Linked DNA regions of Homo sapiens: region 1 is linked to region 2. Evidence: fine-mapped expression QTL. Tissue or cell type: ileum. Region 2 holds a variant in brackets; the other region holds the start of a gene. All regions are shown on one strand. Distances are between the middles of the regions.

The links. PIP is the estimated chance that this variant, and not a neighbour inherited with it, causes the effect.
Region 1: SUMF1 starts here. The variant in region 2 is fine-mapped to the expression of SUMF1 in ileum (GTEx, PIP 0.96).

The regions. Positions count from the first base shown.
Region 1 is chr3:4,462,575-4,470,681 of GRCh38, reverse strand. It overlaps SUMF1 (sulfatase modifying factor 1), which reads left to right and starts at 3,413. Exons shown (of 9, transcript NM_182760.4): 1 at 3,413-3,706. The coding sequence starts at 3,437. It overlaps LOC124909340 (a long non-coding RNA gene), which reads right to left and starts at 3,858. Exons shown (of 2, transcript XR_007095789.1): 1 at 3,174-3,858; 2 at 1,283-2,018. RefSeq lists an enhancer at 3,187-3,366 and a silencer at 3,537-3,716.
Region 2 is chr3:4,390,858-4,398,964 of GRCh38, reverse strand. The region is part of intron 7 of SUMF1 (sulfatase modifying factor 1); the gene reads left to right. Among named protein-coding and RNA genes, the nearest start is that of SUMF1, 72 kb to the left of the region's middle. RefSeq lists an enhancer at 4,586-4,880. The variant A/G (reference allele first, on the strand shown) is at 3,291.

The sequences.
Region 1 (8,107 bases), 72 kb before region 2:
CAAAGCAGCTGGCCTCATAAAGGGTGAAAATGGCTTACTGAAAGCACAGCTGAAACGCCAGCTTGGATGCAATTTCCTGCAAAGATGGGGCCATCTATAAGGATGCAGTATACGCCCTCAATTAGAGATGTCAGACTTGTTCCCACGTAGGAAGAATATATAGGTTCCACCAAGAGGTGGAAGTAGAAGTAGCCCCACTTACTATTACTCCTACTGACTTACTGGGATTTTGTTCTCCCATCCCTGCAACTCTGAGCTCTGCAGAGCTGCAGGTCCTGATCCACAAAGGGATGCTGTCTTTCTGTGGACACAACCAGGGTCCCATTGAACTACAAGCCATGGCTACCATCAGGGCACTTTGCATTCCCTGTGTTCAGGAACCAGAAAGCAAGAGAAGCCTCTAACCTGGAGGGAAAATTGATGCTGCTCAGCAGGAAGAGTGTCAGATGTCTTCTCAAAACTGCAGTGGCACCAACTTTCACAGTAAAAGCTTACCAGAACATCCATGACTTGGCCCAATGTTACCTTTCTGTTCTCCTTTCATCCATGACTTGGCCCAATGTTACCTTTCTCATCTCCTTTCCTTTCTTCTCTCCCCCTTGCTCACTCCACTGTAGCCATGCTGAACTCTTTGATGTTCAGTGAGCAGACAAGCTGCTTTCAGGACTGGGGTCTTTCATCCTCCCAGCTTCATGAGATAGAAGGAGCAAGAAAGGCTACAAAATGCAGAAGGAGCTCACACGTGAGACGGAGGGTGAGAGATATTTTATATAATTACACTAATTCGTACGAGCTGATGGCTGAGTTGGACTTTTTACCTCTTAATTTTTAGAACAAGCCTCCTCACTGACAGGAGCAAAATATTAGAGTGGAAAATATTGATGAGAAATCTCTCATCGATCTCATACTCATTGATTATTGACTAAAAAGTTAGCCTGAGACAAAAGAATGATCGTCCTGGAGAACCAACAAAGTTCCATCTTTCATAATGATTAGTAATAGCAAAGTTATTTTTGAGATATGTTAAATGTCAGGTACCAGGCTACACCTTTTATATACTTTGTGTTATTTAATCCCCATAAAATCTATAAGAAAAAGGAATTATTATTCCCATTTCACACACGAAGAAATAGAGGCTCAGAAAGCTGAAATAATTTGCCTAGGTCATACTTCATGTAAAGTGGCCAGCTTTAACCACAGCTCTTTGTGAGTCTAAGACCTATATTATTTTCTCCACAATTTGATTCCCCTTAAGAGAAAGAGATAATCGTTACTTCATTTGTTCATTCACTTATCCATAATTTAATAAATGTTCACTGAGTGATCATGTGCAGGCTTGGCCTGATTTTGCTGATACAGTGGCAAACGAATAGGCTCCTGCCTTACCTTCATGGAGGTTATAGCCTAATGGTATAGCTGGACCAGGAATCAAAGAAGTTCAGGTCTCTGAAGCGCAGCTGACACAGCATGTGCTGAGACTGATATTTGAAGGAGGCGAACAAAGATTACCGTTGACCTAGACCTTGACTATATATTATGCACAGTAAATACATACAACCTTGGTTAAGGCATTGACCTTTTAGCTTCATCAATTTTGAAATGAGTATAGTAATAATACATTTCTTGCCAAGTGGTTGTAATCTCAAATGAGAAAATGTGTGAAAGGCCTTGGCAAACTGTAAAATAGTCAACAAGGAGAAAAGGCCTTTTTTTTTTTTTTGAGAGATGGTCTCACTTTGTCACCCAGGCTGGAGTGCAGTGGCACAATCATGGCTCACTGCAGCCTCTGCCTACCAGGCTCAAGTGATCCTCCTGCCTCAGCCTCCGAAGTAGCCAGGACCACCGGTGTGCGTCACCATGGCCAGTTAATTTTCTTAATTTTTTGTAGAGACAAGGTCTTGCTGTGTTGCCCAGGCTGGTCTCAAGCTCCTGGCCTCTAGCGATTCTCCTGCCTCGGCCTCCTAAAGTGCTGGGATTACAGGCTTGAGACACGGTGCCTGGCTGGTCTTTTCTTTATGCTAAAAAAATTCAAACAGATGCTACATTAGAATAGTGCAATAAACACCCAGATGCCCATCAACCAGCTATGACAGTTATCAACTCATGGCCAATCATGCTTCATCTTTAGCCAGACCCTGATTACCCATTTTTTGGGAAGCAAATCTTTGACTGCCTATATTTTTATCCATATATATATATGTGTGTGTGTGTGTGTGTGTGTGTGTATACCTCAGTGAGTGTGTGTGTACCTCAGTGAGGGGATTCTTTTAAAAAATATAGCCACAAATACCATTATTACTCCTAAAAGCCTAAAAACAAAATTTACAGCAATTCCTTAATTTTATCAAATATTATAATTTGACTTAGTGGTTAAATTTCCCTGATTATCTCAAAAATTTTGAACTCAGTAGGTTTGAATTAGTATTTAGATAAGGTTCACATATTGCAGCTGGCTGCTATGTTTTTTTTTTTTTTTTTTTTTTCAGATGGAGTCTTGCTCTGTCCCCAGGCTGGAGTGCGGTGGCGCCATCTCGGCTCACTGCAAGCTCCACCTCCCGGATTCATGCCATTCTCCTGCCTCAGCCTCCCGAGTAGCTGGGACTACAGGCGCGTGCCACCACGCCGGGCTAATTTTTTGTATTTTTTAGTAGAGATGGGGTTTCACCGTGTTAGCCAGGATGGTCTCGATCTCCTGACCTCGTGATCCACCCGCCTCGGCCTCCCAAAGTGCTGGGATTACAGGCTTGAGCCACCGCGCCCGGCCTGCTATGTTGTTTTTTAATCTGTAAGTTTCTCCTTCATCTTCTTTTTGTTTTGGTTTTGCATTTTGTTCGATTACGGAACTGTAGAACAGTGGTTCTTAAACTTAAGTGTGGATTAGAATCATCTGGAGAGCTTGTGAAACCCTGGATTGCTGTGTCCAGTCCCCACGGATTCTGATTCCGTATTGTATTTCTCTTTTTTTTTTGAGACGGAGTCTTGCTCTGTCGCCGAGGCTGGAGTGCAGTGGCGGGATCTGGGCTCACTGAAACCTCCGCCTCCCAGGTTCAAACGATTCTCCTGCCTTGGCCTCCCGACTAGCTGGGACTACAAGCGCGCCATTACTGGGTCTTTGTGAGGATTAAATGAGATTTTAAAAAGTGAAGTGCTTAGCATAGTACTCTGGCACTTACCAAATGCCCAGCAAATTTGACTGTTATTTTTCAACCAAGAAATCATAAAGGGGTGCACGGTCTGTGGAAGGCCTTGAGTTTTGTGGAGTTTTGTGTTTTGCTGCGTTTTGACGTTAGCACAGGCAAGCAGCAGCGCCAAAGAAGTACCTGAAGAAAGGTGAAGAGCAACTCTCCTGGTCACTTCGTAAGTCAGCTCAAAATTCTGCCCCTTTAAGGAGGGCTCAGCCACGTGACCAACCGGGTCACATGGCCCGCGGGACAACATGGCTGCGCCCGCACTAGGGCTGGTGTGTGGACGTTGCCCTGAGCTGGGTCTCGTCCTCTTGCTGCTGCTGCTCTCGCTGCTGTGTGGAGCGGCAGGGAGCCAGGAGGCCGGGACCGGTGCGGGCGCGGGGTCCCTTGCGGGTTCTTGCGGCTGCGGCACGCCCCAGCGGCCTGGCGCCCATGGCAGTTCGGCAGCCGCTCACCGATACTCGCGGGAGGCTAACGCTCCGGGCCCCGTACCCGGAGAGCGGCAACTCGCGCACTCAAAGGTGCTCCATCGATTCCTCCGAGGCGGGTGGGGGCTGCTCGGTTCCTGGACGGGGTTGGAGTAGGCAAAGCAAGGCACTAGTAGGAAGGGAAGTAAAGGTTATAACCACACCCCAAATCGAGCACCTGCTGTTCCCGTATGAGGAGTTCCTTCTCCGTGCCTCACCGGAAGACTCCATTTAATTGACCATTAGGGAGTTTGGTTTGAGGGTTATTGTTACTTCTTTACCCCCTATTTCTTTCTCCCTCCAACCTGTTCTCTTAATGAGGATCTCATAATTTTAAGGCAATCAAATTATGGTTTAAATCACCATTTCCTCTCTTATTAACGGAATAAATTAGGATCCTGGGTCTCAGTATCTTCACCAGGGTTGTTGTATACTTATCTGTAGTCTCCTCGAGTACACTCTGCTTGAGGACAAGGGCTTGAATTGTTTATCCTGCTATTCTTAGCACTTTAGCACTTAGGAAGGGCTAAGCAAACTGTAGTTGTTTTATTGCTATTATTTATCTGTCTTGCTTAGCGCCTGTATGTGTTAGGTGCCGGGATATATAAATAACTTACTGGCCGGGCGCGGTGGCTCACATGCCTGTAATCCCAGCACTTTGGGAGGCCGAAGCGCGCGGATCACGAGGTCAGGAGTTCGAGACCAGCCTGGCCAACATGGCGAAACCCCGTCTCTACTAAAAATACAAAAATTAGCCGGGCGTGGTGGCGGGCGCCTGTAATCCCAGCTACTCGGGAGGCTGAGGCAGGAGAATTGCTGGAACCCGGGAGGCGGAGGTTGCAGTGAGCCGAGATCTTGCCACTGCACTCCAGCCTGGGCGACAGGGCGAGACTCCGTCTCGAAAAAAAAAAAGAAAGAAAGAAATAACTGTTACTTCAATCTGTCTGCCCGGTATTTTGCATATTGATGTGTTGTCGAAACAACTTATGGGTCTAAAGGTCAGGTCTTCTGACTCCTAAACTAGTGCTCCTTCTTGTTTACTTAGCAGACACTATCCTTTTCCCATTCCATTTTTCTTTCCTTTGGGTTAATCCTGACCAATATTTAGGACTTAGGTGAGAGGTAACATCCACAGTAGGTTTTACCTGATCTCCTCTTTCTCTCCCCTTCAATATTTCCGTATCCTGCCTCAGTAGTTATGTGTTTATTCTGACATAACAATTATTAAAGATGTTTTTCTGCTGATGTCTCTCCCCAACTGGACTGTGAGGGTGATGGGGTCAGGACCATGATTTAGTCTCTCAGGTGTAGAGTGTAGGAGGTTGATACCTGGGCTTCTCATTGTTTTTCCATCCTGTATAATTTTTGGCCTTTACTTTTTTTCCTGTTACCCTTAGAGCATGTCCTGCAGTACTGTTTATCTTTTGTGTGTTGAAGACTCCTGATTACTGTTTTAGTGTGTATTGGCCATACTTGATATTAATTCCTCTCTAACTTGCCTGGTAATTGATAATCAATCTCTCTTTCTTTTTTCTTTTCTTTTTTTTTTTTTTAGACGGAGTCTCGCTCTGTCACCAGGCTGGAGTGCAGTGGCGCGATCTCCGCTCACTGCAATCTCCACCTCCTGGGTTCGAATGATTCTCCTTCCTGCCTCAGCCTCCCAAGTAGCTGGGATTACAGGCACACGCCACCATACCCAGCTAATTTTTGTATTTTTAATAGAGATGGGGTTTCACCATGTTGGCCCGGATGGTCTCAATCTCCTGACCTTGTGATCCGCTTGCCTTGGCCTCCCAGCGTGCTGGGATTACAAACGTGAGCCACCGCGCCAAGCCAGTCTGTCCCTCTTTCTAAGGAGAAATCCTTACATCTGTTTATCTATTTTTTAATAGGGCAGCCATCTCATTTGCATATATACATTGGTCTGTCTCAAAATTTTATCTAGATTCCTCTGGCAAGCATTGAACATTTTTCATTTTTAAACATTCTATTTTCCTCTGGGTTCCAGAATGGGATGTGGATGTTAGAATCTTTTGGATTACATTTACAAGATGTACATTTTTCATCCCTATAGAGTGGTTTTGTGTCTTGACTGGATGCTATATGGGCCATCTTTGGCCAGTTCTTATAGTCTGCTTTCTACAATGCTTAGGGGCATCTCAATTTATTAACAAATTAGTGGTTGATGAGAATATACCTTCAAGCCTTCAAGGGCTGAACTTAATGACTGAAACTGAAGCAGTCTTGTTATCAAGACAATGACGTCATAGGAGGCTGTTCTTAATCTCTCTATTTTCCTTGGTTTCAAATGTTTTAGTTCATGTGCAGATGACTTTGGTCTAATTCTGACACTTTACCATTTATTCTAAATTCAGGAACTCCAATATTTCAGGAGAAGTAAATGAGCATAGTGGTGTTTCTGCCTTTTTTCCCCTCTTTGTTTTCTGTTTATTTGGTTTAATTAAACAAATGTTTATTTGGCACATTACTATATAACACTTGTTATGTAAGATTCATCCTATGTGCTGGGCATACAGAAAAAGACCCATACACTACCCACATGGCATTTACACTCTGGTAGGTGTTTCTCTCTCTCTCACACACACACACACACACAAACACACACAGACACACACATAAGTATCATTTTTCTATAGTGAGAATACTATAGGAGGGATATGTCCAGAGTACCTGGAGAGGAAGAAAGAATTAATTCTTCATGGACAAGTCGAGTAGTGCCTCAAAAAAAAAAAGGCCACATTTGAGCTAGGCCTTGGAGGAAATATTTTTCGGAGCTGGGAATGGAATTCCAGATTCAAGGACATTCCAAGAAGGAGAATAGTATCAACACATGGCACATTGTGGAAATGCGTGGTGTGTGCTGGGAAACATAAGTGATTTAAGATCTGGGAGTGACATGTTCACACTTTTTAATGTAACACTTTTTAGATGAGTCTTTTTTTGTTTTTGTGTATTCATACAATGAGTGTGTGTGGCAAGGTGAGGGGCACAGAGAAATAACACTGGGCTTTGCCCTCAAGAAATTTTCAGTTTCACTAGAAAGTTATGGCGATTAGAATTGTCTGGGAAACAATATAGATGTTTAAAAATTTAATGTGTATTCCCTCTGGTTATAAAAATATGATTCTCATTGAGAAAATTATCCTAATAGTTTTCTGCGTGGGTTATGATTTTGTAACAAGGAAGCAAAATGTTTTAGTCTGCTTTTATCTTTTAGAAGAGTTATTTGAAAGGCATTTAGGATCATGGGATGCTAAGATTGTAGGTGGCATGTCTGTACATATGGATAAAGTCAGTCTTGATTTCCTGTCTGAGGAGGTTTCTGACTGGTAATGCTTCCCTGGGCAATGAGGCACAATCGAATGCCGTCTCTTCCATGAAACCTTTCCACCTCCTACAAAGAAGTAGTTTTTCTATCCTCTCAGTTCCCATAGCTTATTTTGTTGTTGTTTGATGACAACTTGTATATTTTCTTCAATATGGTGCTAGTGTTTTTTTGTTTTGTTTTGTTTTGTTTTTGAGACGGAGTCTCGCTCTGTCACCCAGGCTGGAGTGCAGTGGTGCAATCTCGGCTCATTGCAACCTCTGCCTACTGGGTTCAAATGATTCTCCTGCCTCAGCCTCCCAAGTAGCTGGGACTACAGGCACCTGCCACCACGCCTGGCCAATTTTTGTATTTTTAGTAGAGACGGGGTTTTACCACGTTGGCCAGGATTGTCTCGATCTTTTGACTTCGTGATCCACCTGCCTCTGCCTCCCAAAGTGCTGGGATTACAGGCGTGAGCCACCGCGCCCAGCCCTAATGTAGTGCTAGTTTTGTAGTTGTCTGATATTCTACATTGGAAGCATTTTTAGATGTTTTAATCTCTATATCCCCCACGTGCCTTATACATTTTAGGCATTCTGTAATAATTTCTTGAATGACCTGTGTTTCCTTTTTTGGTGGATACAGTATTGAGAAACTGCCTTGGGAATAGAGAAGGTCACATACTTTTTCAAGAAACATTTGTAAAGTATTCTTTTGCTGTATTCATCCTCCTAAGAATCCTGTGAGAGAGATCATCTCCCACTTTACAGATGAGGCAACTGAGGCTTAAAGGAATCATATAGCTCAGAACTGCAAGAAACTTTGAATGTCATTTCATCTATGATTAGTGTCTGTCTGTAGAGGCAGGAGGGTGACAGAATGGTATAGATAAATAAGCCCTGTATAGATAGATAAGGCAGGAGTTTGTGGACAGATCCAGAGAGCATGCTTCTCTTATTCACCCAGCTTTCTCATGAACCTTTAGCTTATTTTATTTTATTTTTTATTAGAGGGGACTCAGAACAAGAGCCTTTAGCTTTTAATGTTAAGGTTGAGGAGAGGAAAGAAGGAAAAGGAGAAGTTACACAAAAAAGTTACGTATGAGCTGATTCTATTTTTGTGTACAA
Region 2 (8,107 bases):
GATTAAATCCCAGATCTTCTGATCCCCAGACTTGTTAATGTTTACTGGATTCCAGATGTTATTTCAAATACAAAACATGAAAAGCTACTTATTTCCTTGTAGTAGTATTTTGTCACAAGCCACATATGTTAAATCAGGCATCTCAAGACTTGTTATAAATATAAAGATAATTTAAGAGATGGGAATCGCTATGTCATACAGTGGCTTCTTCCAAAAGCAAGTGGGAGGCAGTGAATTTTTCCTATGGTTTTTGATCTCTTGAGATTTTAAATCAGTTTCTTGTCCTTCTTACCTTCCTAACCTCTTATTTCCATTAAATTATTTTTAAAAATTATTGATTTGGCAAGCTAGTTTTTGTATCTGACGTCTGACTTGTTAATGAGCTGTAAAGTAATATAGTGCCATTTCCCATTCCTATAGCTTACTTTTAGTGACTTCCCCATGTCATAGTATGACTCATTTGTTCTTTCTCTAAGGATCTGGAAATAAAACCAGGTTATTAAGAAGAGAAAATATATAGTTAAGTTATCTTTTTTTGTTACCAAATTATGCTGTGATTTTTTTCATGTGGATGTGTGGATGCCTTTTTAATATAGGAATATGCATATCCACACGTAGAAGTTTTATGTAAGGGTATACTTCTGTCCATTCAGCAAAATTTACTGGCAAGCTACTGAATGCCAGATTTGTATGCTGGGTTCTGGGAATCTAACAGACACAATCCTCTTTTCTTAAGGAGCTTGCAGATGTTAAAAGAGCAAGCAAACCCACCTCGGTGGGTTTACATACATATACATTTATTGCTATAAAAGTATAAAATTAAGGAGGAAGTATAGCATGATGGTTAAAAGCATGCAGTTTTGGAGTGGGACCTGGATTTAAGTCATAGCTCAGCCACCTACTAGCTGAATAACCTGGAGCAAGTTAGTTAACCTTTCACCCAGCTTCCTCATCTGTAAGTGAGGAAATAGTAATACCCTTTATGGGATTATTGGAGGTTTCAAGGAGATGCTACAGAGAAAATGTCTAGGGTAGAGGCTGTCATGTAGTAAACATTTGATATATGTTAATTATGAGTATTATGTTTTACGTGTAATGAAAATTCAAATGAAATAAGCTAGCAAGCTATGAAATTATACCTTACTCTGAAATCTAATCCATGGAAGACATTTTTTTGGACCTTTTTAGGGATGTGGAAAGGAGATAGGCCATCTGGTAGCATGCAATTATAAATAACACTTCTTTCCATGGACAGTCTCCACTTTATACTCAGTAAAGGAAGTAAACATGGCATCTAATCAAGCAGCAGAACATACAGAATTGGGCACTTAGCACTTATCCACTTTCAAAACGTCCAAATAAAATCATGGAAGTCTTCAAGTGGTTCTCTGAAAATAATGGTTAAGTGAAAATGCCATTTGGTATAAGCTAATTGCTTTATTCTCTCATAACTTGCTAATGAATTGTCACTGAAGAACACAGAAGATTGTGAGAATAAAAGAATGTGATAGATCCCTAGTGAGACTAAACCGTGTCTACTTTTCTCACTTCAAGTAATACTTAGAACCATATGCGGCCCTGCACTCAGGACTGACAGTTTTATACAGTTATTCTAAGCAATATAAGTGATTGATTCTGGAGCAAATCTTTCAGTGAATGTAGTCTGTACCCTGTGTTGGTGGTGGTTTGGTTTTAGTTGACCTAGAAGTTGCCTTTGCATTTAGGATGATGCTGCTGTATAACATGCATTGCTTAGGATAAAACAAACGGATTTCTCTATAATTTAGATCTAATCCATCTGAAATTGGATAGAGCAGGCATGTTCCTTTGTGTTGCATATTAGTGTGTTACACTTTCTGAAGTTAAAGAACCACCTGCATTATTAGGAGGCTAATTCCATCTAGCAGTCTACTGCATTCCATCTGGCAGTCTACCACTACCAGTAGATGATGAGAAAGTTTCTTCTTTGTTGCAGAAATCTAATGTGATATGTGTTTTCTCTTAATAGTTGCTTCTTCTGTGTTTAGGTTGACTGGTTTTCAGCACATAGATGCTTTATAGCCTTGTGTTTCACAGCTATAATAATTCATGCTTCTTAAACAGAGCATATGTATCTACTGTTATATAGGTCAGAGAATTAATCATTCTCCTGGGGCCTCACTCTTTTTTCTACTCTCTCTCCTTCCTGTCTCTCAGTGGGGAGAGAGGCTGTAAAACTTGAGGCCCTCGAATGAGGCACCTCAAAGAAGATTGTAGTTGCTTATCTCACACCTCAGCAAGAAACCATGGGAAGTTCCTTGAAGGAAGTGAAACAATTTGGGATGGAGAAGCTCCAAGATAAAAGGATTTGGACATGTGTCCACCAGCTCACATCAAATGGTTGGTGGGGAAGGACCCTATAAGGTCTCTAGAGGAGCACAAGTGAGGGAACTCAGGCCAGAAGGGAAAGGATAGAGCCCAGACTAGATACTGGTTCTCCCAACTACCTGGCCTGTGCGGTAGGTCCCGTGGTGATGCCTCCTGCCTGGGCTCATCCTGTGGAGTCTCTGCAGGTTATTTTGCAGACACTTTCTATTTGCAATCTCTTGTAAGACTTTTTATTGTGTGCTTTTATGGCCTTGTGGAACTCGTGAACTATAGAGAGGTTTGTGTGTCTGAAACTAGAATAGTCGAATGATTTATTCGAAAAATGTTACAGTCTATGAGTTAGTTCAGAAGGGGCACATGGCAGAATGGCCGACTATGATGCTGAAGCCAGACATCCTGGCCTTCAGCCCAGCTCCTCTGCTTTCTAGCTGCGTGACCTTGGGCACACTATTCAACTTTTCTGTTCCTTAGTTCTTTAGCTGTAAAATAAGGCCAATGAGTGGGTGTCCAAACATTCCTGGTTTATATCTGTGCCTAGCACAAGTGTTAATAGTTCCACCTTTCAATCTCTAAAGTATCCTTATTTGGATGGTCAATTATATGTCTGCCATACCAATAAGAGAATCTGTATCAAAAATTTGTTTGGAAGACTAAAAATATAGAAAACAATATCCAACTGTAATGTGCTTGGTAAATATTAGCTGCTATTGTTTATTTATGTGCTATTTATTTTACAAGTAGACTGGTATTTTAAATACCTGATTTCATGTATTACTCCAGGAGCAAGAACGGTTACCATAGACTTTGGGGTCTGAAAGTGACTTATATTATTGGAAAATCAGGAGCCACCGTGGTATAAGCAAGTGTAATACAATTTCAAAAATTCTCTTCGTTTCTAATCTGGTGTGGGTGAAACAAGTAGC[A/G]TGGAGGAAATGACTGTTTTCATTCATTTCACTAAAATGGTAATCACCACAATGGCATGCTGGTTTTACAGAGAAAATACAGTGGAGGTTGTTAATTTGATTCGTGTGTTTTACTGCGCTCTTCTTTCCAATTTGATCTCTAGTTTTCTTTCTTTGACCTTTCTTTGGGCGTCACCTTTTCCTCTCATGCAGGAGAGGCTAATGCTAATTGCAGTCCCTTCTTCATTGGTCCTTGTCCCCAGAGATAAATAAAATTAAACATAATTCAAAAAGCTTTATTTGAAGTAATGGTTTCATCTGCTCACTCTTAAAATATTTTTTCACGTTGGACATTAGGTAAAAAAAAATACAAATTATTGGTATTTTGACTGTATTTTTCACAAATATGTACTTTGGGTAGAGATGCTGCTGAACCTAGAAGATACTCTATCTGGTTAGGCACGGGGGTGAGATAAGCCTGCAGGTGCCACAGTGTGATGGACTTTGACTCCTGGTTCTCTCGCTTGCTACCTGTGTGATCTTGGGGATGCCATTTATTTCATCTCTCTGAGCTTCAGTATTTTCATCCTTAAAATGAAAAGAATGATACTTCCTGCTTTACAGGGTGATTATGAGGATGAAATACGATGATAAGGATTAGTATACTCTCAACAAATGGATGGTATGGTAATTAACAGAGACGTCAGTCATTTTAAATTCTAGAATATTTGAAAACAAAGAGTTCCTTTCTCGAAAGATGGTTGAGGTGATTGAAAGAGGCTTCTTTTAGGAGGAAGATGTGCAGAGGCTGTGTCTCTGATGATAAAAATACTTTGATGATGTGGATTTCATACAGGAGAAGCTAGTGCTCTTCATCACAGAGCTAAATACAGACCTGCCCAGGACCCAGAGAAACTAAAGGAGGATATAGGGTCAGTGAGAAACAGCTGCAGCCTTGCCTGGATCCCTTGTATCAGTCTTCTGAGAATAAAAACACTATGGCTATTGCTACTCTTCTGTCTTCTAGGTTGCTTAGTAAATGTCTTCTGTAGCACATCCTAACGAGAAACATAAAGGGAAGAGAATTCTGGGAAATGAGGTTCAGTCTAGCCAAGGTGACACATTACAAAGCTGGGACATTAACAGTTATCCAATCTAGTTTAATCTAACACCTTTGAATTACTTTAAAACCAACCCCAAATACTATGTACTTTTTTCCCTAGAAAACTTCAGTATGTGGCTGGGTGCTGTGGCTCATGCCTATAATCCCAACACTTTGGGAGAGCGAGATGGGCAGATCACTTGAGCCCAGGACTTTGAGACCAGCCTGGGCAACATAGTGAAACACCGTCTTTACCCAAAAATTTAAAATGGTGCATGTGTCTGTGGTCCCAGCTACTCAGGAAGCTGAGGTGGTAGGATTGCTTGAGTCCAGGAAATTGAGGCTGCAGTGAGTCATGATCACGCCACTGCACTCTACCCTGGGTAACAGAGTAAGACCCTGTCTCAAAACACACAAAAAAAGCACTTCAGTATGTGACTGTAAAAGCTAAACACTCTTTTAAAAAAATAATAATAAAAACAAAACTATAATGGTATTATCAAATCTCAAAAAAAACCTAAAAATAATTCCTTAATATTATCAAATACTCAGTCAGCATTTACATGTCCTTAATTATCTCATGAACATTTTTCTGTAATTGGCTTGTTGAGAATCAGGATCCTAAGAAATTCCATTCTTGTTGTGATCCTAATTACATTTGGTTGAGTTCTTATTTTGGTAATTGCAATGTAAGAGGTCAAGTGATTCACTAATACAGAAAACAAGTACAAAACTGAACAAAATTGTAAAGAAAAAACACACACCCAACCACTGGAAACTGAAAATCCACCAAAGGGAGGTGATAAATTGAGAAGTGTTGATTCTTGAGAAACTTCTATAGCTTTGGCCAAGAATGGGTGAGAATATGTGGCGTTCTTGCTTGGAACTGATTCCATATCCTCTTTCTGCCACACTCTATTATTAAAAATAATAATAATAATAAATAAATAAATAAATAAAAGGCCAGTCATGGTGGCTCACTTCTGTAATACCAGTGCTTTGGGAGACTGAGGTGGGATGATCTCTTGAGGCCAGGATTTCAAGACCAGCCTGGTCAATATAGTGAGATGTTGTCTCTATAAAAAAATAAAATATTAGGCGAGTGTGGTGGCATATGCCTGTAGTCCCAGCTATTCAGGAGGCTGAGATGGGAGGATCACTTGACCCCAGGAGGTCGAGGCTATGGTGAGCTATGATTGCACCACTGCATTGTGGCCTGGGTGACACAGGGAGACCCTGTCTCTAAAACTAAAATAAAAATGTAACTGTCAGTTCAGGACTGGTGGCGAAAACCAAAGCCTTACAGCCAAAGATTGACTTGATTCAGGGTGGAGGATGGGGGCACTGAAAGCCTGTGGCTTTGTCAGCTAAAAAAGCAGACTCACGTTAGAATATTTTGGGAAATCCTGCAGCATGACTAGCCCACGGTAGCAGTTGTGATGGGTGGTAGACCAGCCAGAAATTTAACAGGGAGATCGCGCAAGTAACAGAGACATTAAAGGTGTGAAATAAGCTTTTCTAGGCTTTCTGGGAAACTAAACATAAGCAGGGAAGACCCAAGAGAGCCCAGCAAAAAGTGAAAGCCAGGGAGACTTGAGATGACTGCCACTTTGAATGCCATTTCTCAATCCATACACCTTGGTTCATGAAAGGTGAAAGCCCAGTGGGTTCAAAGTATCTGAGATAGCCTCTGTCTAAATTATTGGTCAGCTGTTCAAGTATGCAACACAAATATGACCTCAATGGAATTGAAAAAAAAAATCTGAACAGAGACATCAGTGGGTACAGACCATGGGGAATGAGATTCTACAGTTTATATTCAGGTAAGTTACCAAAACAAAACAAAACAAAACAGAACAAAAACCTTCAGGAAAATAGGGTAATCAAGAGTTGCTGTTACATATACATGTGCTCTCTCTCTCGCTCTCTTTCTCTCTTTATATATATAGGTAGATATATATATATATATATATATATACACACACACACACACACACACATATATATCTGAACATATAAACATTTAAGATTATTTAAGATTATATATGTAATCTTAAATTATGCATATTATGTATAATCTTAAATGTCTAGTTTTCAGCTAAAATGTAATAAACATGCAGACTAACAAGAAAGTGTGACCCATACTAAAGAAGATGAGTATTTAAGTTAAAACTAACTCCCAAGTAGGCCCAGATGCTAGATTTAACAAAGACTTAAAAATAGCTATTATGATTATATTTAAAGAACTAAAGTATATTTGAATAGTTGCTATAAAATACGCCAACTGTGAGTCAACAAATAGAGAATCAAATAGAAATTTTAAAAAAAGAACCAAGTAGAATTTCTAGAATTGAAAAGTATACTACTAACTGAAATGAAAAATTCCCTAGTTGAACACAAGAGCAGATAAGAAATGGTAGAAGAAAGATTCAGTGATCCTGAAGGTAGATCAAGAGAAAGTATCCAGGACAGGTGCAGTGGCTCACACCTATAATCCTAGCACTTTGGGAGGCTGAGGCGAGTGGATCGCTTGAGCCTGGGAGTTTGAGACCAACCCTGGTAACATGGAGAAACCATGTCTCTACAAGAAATAAAAAATTAGCCAGGTATGGTGGTGCACATCTGTAGTCCTAACTACTTGGGACGCTGAGGTGGCAGGATCACCTGAACCTAGGGAGGTTGAGGCTGTGGTGAACCAAGATTGCACCAATGCACTCCAGCCTGTGTGACAGAGCAAGACTCTATCTCAAAAAAAAAAAAAAGAAAAGAAAAGAAAAGAAAAAGGAATTATCCAAACCAATGAGCAGAGAGGGCTGGGCATGGTGGCCCATGCCTGTAATCCCAATACTTTTGGAGGCTGTGGCAGGTAGATCACTGGAGCCCAGGAGTTCGAGACCAGCCTGGGCAACATGGCAAAACCCTATATCCACAAAAATTACAAAAATTAGTCAGGTATCATGGTATGCACCTGTAATCCCAGCTACTCAGGAAGCTTAGGTGGAAAGATCTCCTGGGCCCACGAAGTCAAGGCTGCAGTGAGCCAGATCATGGCAATACACTCCAGCCTGGGTGACAGAGTGAGACCCTGTCTCAAAATAAATACATAAAAATTTAAAAAGCAGAAAAAATTTCAGAGAAAAATCAAGACAGCCCTGTGCAACAACATCATGTGTTCCAACATAATTTTAACACATGTGTAAAGGGAATCTCAAATGGAGAGGAGCAAAAGGGACAAAAATTTGAAAGAAAAATCTGAAAATTTCCCAAATTTGATGAAGATTATCTATAAATCCAAGAAGCTCAGTGAACCTCAATTAGGATAAACTGCAAAAACAAAAACAAAAACAAAAACAAAAAACCACACCTGGACAAATCATATTGACACTGTTGAAAGACAAAATCTTGAAAATAACAAGAGGAAAACAGTTCATCACATACAGGGCAACAATAATGTGATTAATAGCTGATTTCTGATCAGAAACAGTGGAGACCAGAGGATGATGGTGTGACATAATCAAAGAGTAGAAAGGAAAACAAACAAACCTGTCAACTAAGAATTCTATATCCAGGAGAACAATCCTTCAAAAATGAAGGTGAAGGAGGTTTGACTCCTGGTTCTAGAAAGATGGAGAGATGGAGTAGATGTACATTTTTCTATTCCTCTTACTAAATACAACTAAAACTCTGGACACTGCACATAAAAGAATTATAAGCAGACCATGGAAAGTTAAAGCAG